Homo sapiens: one gene and its partner. The protein of the gene in region 1 interacts with the protein of each later gene in a biochemical or structural test. Each region holds a gene or a part of one and is shown on either strand. Other genes may lie near its edges.

Region 1 (3,752 bases):
GATTTGAGATACAATTTGCAAGTATAGCCCCTGGGACCTGCAGATGGATTGAATGTGTGGAGTGAGGGAAAGAGAGGAGCTCAGGGTGACTCCTGGGTTTGGGGCTTGGCCGATGCTCTCCCTGAGCAGCCTGAGTTTCCCTCTGATTCATTTCTGGTACACCAGGCATAAAACAAGGTCCTTGTAACAAGTGACAGAGACAATCATGGTGCTGAGGGAAGAAGGGTGAAGGTGTATGGGGCCCACTCACCTTGATGACATTCCTTGTGCTGAAGCGGGTCCTGGTGACCTGGTGCCAACAGTGCCGGACCTGCCAGACCAGAAAGAGGCAGAGGACAAGCAGGTTGCCACAGCACTGAGGGTCCCTGCAGCTGTGATTCTGGGAGAGCAGGCCCTGCACTGGCTCCCACTCAGGGCCATGGAATGGCCCCACCACAGCACAGGCACCCAGCAGTGACAACAACATGGCAAAGCTTAGATCAGGCAGATGGTGTTGGGAGCTAGAGGGCAGGCCTGGCACATCTGATGCAGCCAGCTGCAGTAGGATAGCCGCCACCTCATAGCACCCCTGTCACTGAGGCCACCTCACAAAGGGGGCTGATGCCCCAGCCTCAACTCTGACCCTGGTGCCAGGCCTGGTTAGCATGCTCTTGGTGCAGGTAAGGACAGTATTGGGGAATTGTTCAAAAGTAATTAGGAGGAAGAACTTGTTTTAAACAAACCCATCCTCTGGAATGAAAAGATTAAGTTCCCTGAATGTGTGATGGGGTGATATAACCTGCGGTCTGCTTGATTTCTTTCTTCCTATGAAATACTTGGATCTGCCTGTCCTTCTATTATCAAACATTTAATGAACACTGTATTGAATACATGTATTCTTGTTTAACCACTCAACATGCCTTTCTCGTTGCTTGCAGTATCCTGATTTCCTGTGGGGGAATTACTTTTCCCATCTTAGGATCAGTGTTGGTGGGAAAATAAATGTTACCCTGAAGACTCTTTTACCCAAAAGTTCTATTCAAAATATTAAATATCTGAGCAGGCAGGGACGTCAGCCAATTATAATGAGCCAGGCCTTAACTGTTTAGTGGCTGGAATTTTTTTTTTTTTTTTTGAGACCGAGTTTCCACTCTTGTTGCCCAGGCTGGAGTGCAATGGCGCGATCTCGGCTCACTGCAACTTCCACCTCCCAAGTTCAAGCGATTCTCCTGCCTCAACCTCCCGAGTAGCTGGGATTACAGGCATGCGCCACCACGCCCGGCTAATTTTGTATTTTTAGTAGAGACGGGGGTTTCTCCATATTGGTCAGGCTGGTATCGAACTCCCAACCTCAGGTGATCCGCCCGCCTCAGCTTCCCAAAGTGCTGGGATTACAGGCGTGAGCCACCGCACCCGGCCCTCTTTTTTTTCTTCTTTTTTTTGAGACGGAGTCTCACTCTGTTGCCCAGGCTGGAGTGCAGTGTGCAGTGGTGCGATCTCGGCTCACTGCAAGCTCCGCCTCCGGGGTTCACGGCATTCTCCTGCCTCGGCCTCCCGAGTAGCTGGGACTACAGGCGCCCGCCACCATGCCCGGCTAATTTTTTGTATTTTTAGTAGAGACGGTTCACTGTGTTAGCCAGGATGGTCTCGATCTCCTGACCTAGTGATCCGCCTGCCTCAGCCTCCCAAAGTGCTGCGATTACAGGCGGGAGCCACCGCACCCGGCCGGCCTTTTTTTTTTTTTTTTTGAGAGTCTCGCTCTGTCGCCTCAGCTGGAGTGCTAGAGTGCAGTGGCATGATCTCAACTTACTGTAGCCTCCACCTCCGGGGTTCAAGCGATTCTCCTGCTTCAGCCTCCTAAGTAGCTGGGGTTACAGGCGCCCGCCACCACGCCTGGCTAATTTTTGTATTTTTTAGTAGGGACGAGGTTTCGCCATGTTGGCCAGGCTGGTCTCGAACTCCTGTCCTCAGGTGATGCGCCCGCCTCGGCCTCCCAAAGTGCCGGGATTACAGCCATAAGCCGCTGCGGCCGGCCGGTGGGTTACTTTTTGAATGTTTAATTCATTGTTTCTGCCAATAATTTGTACTAGGCAGCTCATAAGAACGCCAAAGTACGTTCCTTCTTCGACACAGGGCCAGTTTCCGCGCCAGTGCCCCCGTAGAGGGCGGGGCCCACTCGCTCGCGTAGCGTCACCTTCGCTTCCTGCCGCGCGGGGCCATTTCCGCTGCTGCTTCTGTGAGTTTTTCCGGTGCACGCGAGTGCTTCTGAAACGTCAGCTGCGCTCCCCTAGGAGTGCTGAGCCCGCGGAACCGCAGCCATGGTGAGTGCGTGCGCCGGCCGAGGGACCGGGAAGCGGGAGACTCAGGGTTGCGTTCACTCCCTAGCCTGTTAGATGGAGGCTTAGAGCCTGCGCCGTCTCATCCGCCGGCGTTGGGTCTTAACCGCCGGGCCCTTAGTTAGAACCCCAGCAGCGGCGGGGTCCCAGCAGCCTGGCCCGAGGTTAGAACTCAGGAAACCTTAGGATCCCCGCAGCTGTGTTGCTTTGCCGCACGGTCTGTTTGCTTGGCAAAAGGCCTGCAGCGAGCGGAGGGGGCATGGCCCAGCCTGGGAGAAAGAGACCAACCCACGTGGGAGAGGGCAAAAAGTTGGGTGAAGAAAACTTGGCTCCAACTTTTTTTTTTCCTTGTTTCTTTTCATACGAAATCTACGATGGCGTGGGACCCTGGGATTCGGATCAACCTCTCCTACCCACCCTACCTCACCCCACCCCCGTTGCTGGGGTTCAGGAGGAGATCTCCCATGGGTCTGCGCTTAGTGCCCGCCGCGAGTCACACGCGCCAGGGACCTAGAGGAGCCTTTGGCATTTGGGGGCTGTGGGGAACATGAAGTGAGCGCGACTCACGGCCTGGAGTGCAGGAAAGGCTTCTCCTGCAAGGCGGTGGCTTCAAAAACCAGAAGTCTGGTAGCACCACGTGCGGCGTCTCTAAACTCTTGGTCGTCTCTGACTTTTAAACATCTAGGGAAAGTTCTAAAACGTGTGTCCTGGCGTAGTAGTTTTGGTTGGCACTTGGTGAGGAGGGAAGAATTTGTAAAGCACTGTAACTTCTATAGTTAATCCTTCCAGTGGAGCTTGGATCCCGGCGGTAGCACTCCCCACAAACCTCCTCCCATGCATTTTGAAGCTTAGTACGTGGCTGAGCCTAGAACTTGAAGCTTCCAAACTCAGTGCTCGCTTTAACGCAGCTCCCTGAAACGTTTTGGAATCGGATGGTCTCAGGTTGAACTTTGCAGTTTTCCTCAACTGTAAAATGGGGATGACAGTGCATGAGGGTGTTGTGAGGATCAAATGAAATAAAGCATGGTAAACATCTAGTCCTGATGCTTGGTACAGAGTAAGCACGCAGTATTTGTTGTTCAATCAAAACCTTGCAAGTTTTGGCTGTCTGGTGTACAGCGAAACCAAACTGATCATGCTAGGTAGGGATTTAGGTTGGCTGGTGGTATGATATCATTCGTTAATTTATTTAACCCCTGAAGAAATTGAAAGGCAAATAAATACACCCTAAGCAAGTTTCAATTAGTGTTTATAAGCTAGTTTGGTTTTAAAATTGAGTTTAACTTTTTTGTTGACTAATAGTGAAACATTTAGGTATTTAATGATTGTTCAGATTCCTGAAGTCTTCCTCTTTTATGAATTTGATGTTTATTGAGATTTGAGAATCCTGATTTCCAGAGAATGGGTTGTTGGAAACAATGGCAATTTTTAAAGTTT
Region 2 (3,752 bases), on another chromosome or scaffold:
TGTATCCCTACGAATTTTCTGTCCAATTTTTCTTTAATTACTGAGATTGGAACGTTCAATATTCAATCATAATAATGGATTTGTCTAATTCTCTTCTCAGTTCTATCAGTTTTCGCTGCAATGCATATTGAAAATCTGTTCTTAGGTGTTATTCTTTGTCTTATTGACGAATTGACCCCTTTAGCATTATGAACTGTTCCACTTCATCCCTGGTGATGTTCACTGTTCTGAAGTCTTTTTTGTCTGACATTAATACAGACTTTCGGCGTTCATGTGATTGGTATATGCTTGGTATCTTCTTTCATCCTTTTGACTTCTTTGTTTTACTTTTTAGGAGTTGGTCTGCAGTTTATAGTATGCAGCTTAACTTTTCATCGTGTACTTTCAAATGATATCTACTTCACATGTAATTTAAGATTTTACAGTGTATACTACTTACATATTCCTTCTGCCTTTTTACTATTGTTGTCAGAGATTTTATTTCTATAGATGTTATAAATTGCACATACACTTAATATTTTTGCTTTAGTTTTAAAATTTTGCCAATGAGGAAAAAAAGTCTTTTATATTTATTCACATATTTACTTTTTCCAGCACTTATCCTTCCTTTGTATAGATCCAAGTTTCCATCTGGCATTATTTCTTTCATAGAGATCACTTTCTGTAGCTCTTCATGGTAGTCTTCTCAATTTTTGGTAGTTACAGCTTCCAATTTGAAAAATACTAGAATACATTATAAATGCCTTGCAAAAATCTTTCATAGTTTTAAGTTATTAAGTGAACAATATTATGGCTAGGAGGATTATTATGGATTTGTTGGTTGCTTTTGAAAGGTCTACCTGTTTTGTTTTGTTTTGTTTATTTTTGTGTTTGTTTTTCATCACACTTAGAAACTCCCATCAAGACTGAAGCAGACGTTTTGGCAGAAAACCAGGTTCTTGATAGCAGTGCTCCTAAGAGTCCAAGTCAAGATGTTAAAGCAACTGTTAGAAATTTTTCAGAAGCCAAGAGTGAGAACCGAAAGAAAAGCTTTGAAAAAACAAACCCTAAGAGGAAAAAAGATTATCACAACTATCAAACGTTATTCGAACCAAGAACACACCATCCATATCTCTTGGAAATGGTAAATTATTTTTCTTTAGGTTCTAATCTTTGTGTTCTCACATCATAAAGATAGAGCCACTGGGGTGTGTGTGTGTGTGTGTGTGTGTGTTTGTTTTAAGGTTACCAGAGACACATTGACCTTGGAGACTTTGTATCTTAATTCTGTAGCTACATTTGGCATATAGCTGGTATATTCAGTGAATGTGGAATAATGTAATTTTTACAACCACTTAAAATAAATTTAGGTTTCACTAGTTGGTAAGGAAGTATCTACTGAGGTTTATTGACTTTCTTTTAAGTTTCCAGTGAAAGCACAGCTAAAAGTACAATGGCAAGCTGAAGGGAAAAAAAGATTTTTAGTACAAATGTCTATTGAGAACCATACAGTAACAAAAAGGAAAGGCCTAAGGTTTTCTGACAATTCTCATTTGTTATCTTCTGGGATTGTCTTCCTTCCCTCCCTCCTCCACCTATTTTTTTTTTTTTTTTTTTTAAGAGTTGAGGTCTTGCTTTGTCACCCAAGCTGGAGTGTAGTGGCGTGATCATAGCTCACTGTGGCCTCGAATTCCTGGGCTCAAGTGATCCTACTGCCCCAGCCTCCCAAGTAGCTGGGACTATGGGCATGCACTACCATGCTAATTTTTTTTCTTTGTACACCTTTATTTATTTGTGTTTATTCTGTGCATTCGTGGCTTTATTCTCAGCATTATGTGCTCAAAAATCTAATAGCTTTCTTCAAATTATAAAGAGGAAGCAATGCATCTTCAAGTTCTCAGTAGTGGACATGAAGCTGTTTGAAAATCAAAGATTTTCATGTCTAAGCAATAGAAGTATTTTACATTTTTTAGTGGAGTTATAAAACTTGACATTCTGTGAAAAGTCTGTTTGGTTTTGACTTACAAGTTAAGTACTTATTTTGTAGCTAAAGTGTTCAGTGGCTACACTCTTGAGGTGCTACATGTAGCACAGTTGCTTCCTATTAAAATGGATCTGAAATATACGCTCCATTTTGTATACATAGTAAATTACATTTTAAAAAGTTACCTTATAATTGGTAAATTAAGTGAGCTTTCCACTGAAAGTTTCTGTATGATGTTTCTGAACTCTATCAATAACACCAGAAAATAAAATAAATTCCTTTTTGGCAAACTACATGTGATTCCTTGATTATGTGCTTGTTCTAAATACCAGGGATTTCTAGCTTTCTTTTAATTACAATAAGCACAAAAATGGAAAGTTATAAAAGTCAAGGAATGTTGGAAGTTTTTACTGCTATTTTCATTGTTACATGTAAATAGATGTACTTACCAATTTCTAGACTGCTTATGAATTTGGGTTTGGGCAATCCTCTTTGACATAATTTTAGATTAAAGAATTGCAGACTTTTTAGCCGGGCATGGTGGAGCATGCCTGTAATCCCAGCTACTCGGGAGGCTGAGGCAGGATAATTGCTTGAACCCGGGAGGCGGAGGTTATGGTGAGCTGAGATCGCATGATTGCACTCCAGCCTAGGCAACAAGAGTGGAACTCTGTCTCAAAAAAAAAAGAATCGCAGACGTTTAAACCTATTTTCCTGTCCTATGCTAGATACTCTTAGAGAGGACTCCAAATATAAGCGTTAGTACTGTTTAAAAAGCTAGATTGTCTTGGCCGGGCATGGTGGCTCACGCCTGTAATCCCAGCACTTTGGGATGCCGAGGCGGGTGGATCACAAGGTCAGGAGATCGAGACCATCCTGGCTAACACGGTGAAACCCCGTTTCTACTAAAAATACAAAAAATTAGCCGGGCATGGTGGCGGGTGTCTGTAGTCCCAGCTACTCGGGAGGCTGAGGCAGGAGAATGGCGTGAACCCGGGAGGCGGAGCTTGCAGTGAGCTGAGATCCCGCCACTGCACTCCAGCCTGGGCAACAGAGCGAGACTCCGTCTCAAAATAAATAAATAAATAAAAAGCTAGATAGTCTTGATATAAATTAAAAGGACATGTTCTTGCATCGTTTTTTAGCAAAATAGTGAATATAATACATATTTCTTATTGTTCTGTCTTCTTTATATGGTGAGGGTACATGCAATATTTTAGATTGTATTTCCCAGATATAATTTATTTACTACCTCATCTTTTTTTAAATTGTGTTTTAGCTTCTAGCTCCGGACATTCGACATGAAAGAAATGTGATTTTGCAGTGTGTTCGGTACATCATCAAAAAAGACTTTTTTGGACTGGATACTAATTCTGCGAAAAGTAAAGATGTATAGGCATCTGGTGTTTCAGCATACATAACTGAAGCATGTGAAACAGTATCATCCTCGTTAGTAGAGGAAAACCAAAACCCTTTTTTCCGTCAAAATTGGATTTGTAATTAAATTGTAAGCCTCGTAGGATGTATGTTGGAATTTTAAGTCTTTCCTTTGGTTCTATGCAAATAAAAAAATAACTGATTTTTTAAGACTGTGTCTGTATTGTTGGGATTGAATCTAGTATTTGCTGGGAGAATTTTTTCTTTGTATTTATTTTAATGTATTGTTCTCATGTAAGAATGACTGATGTTGTGTTAGTTAAGAATTGAAGATAGGTTTAGCAGTAAAGAAGAAAGCTTTTAAAAGGATTGATTCAGCTAAGCAAAGTTGGGCAGAGAAATACAGCCATTT

The links. Proteins that work in one complex are often made in the same cells at the same time.
Region 2: the proteins of SNU13 (region 1) and NUFIP1 form a complex in vitro, tested with the Homo sapiens proteins (one study listed by BioGRID).

The regions. Positions count from the first base shown.
Region 1 is NC_000022.11:41,687,342-41,691,093, reverse strand, and holds the start of SNU13 (NHP2-like protein 1), read left to right. Parts: upstream 1-2,297; coding exon 2,298-2,300; intron 2,301-2,766; coding exon of another isoform or gene 2,767-2,866; exon of another isoform or gene 2,867-3,376; intron 3,377-3,752.
Region 2 is NC_000013.11:44,940,813-44,944,564, reverse strand, and holds part of NUFIP1 (FMR1-interacting protein NUFIP1), read left to right. Parts: intron 1-890; coding exon 891-1,123; intron 1,124-3,242; coding exon 3,243-3,359; 3' UTR 3,360-3,752. UniProt on the Homo sapiens protein: Binds RNA.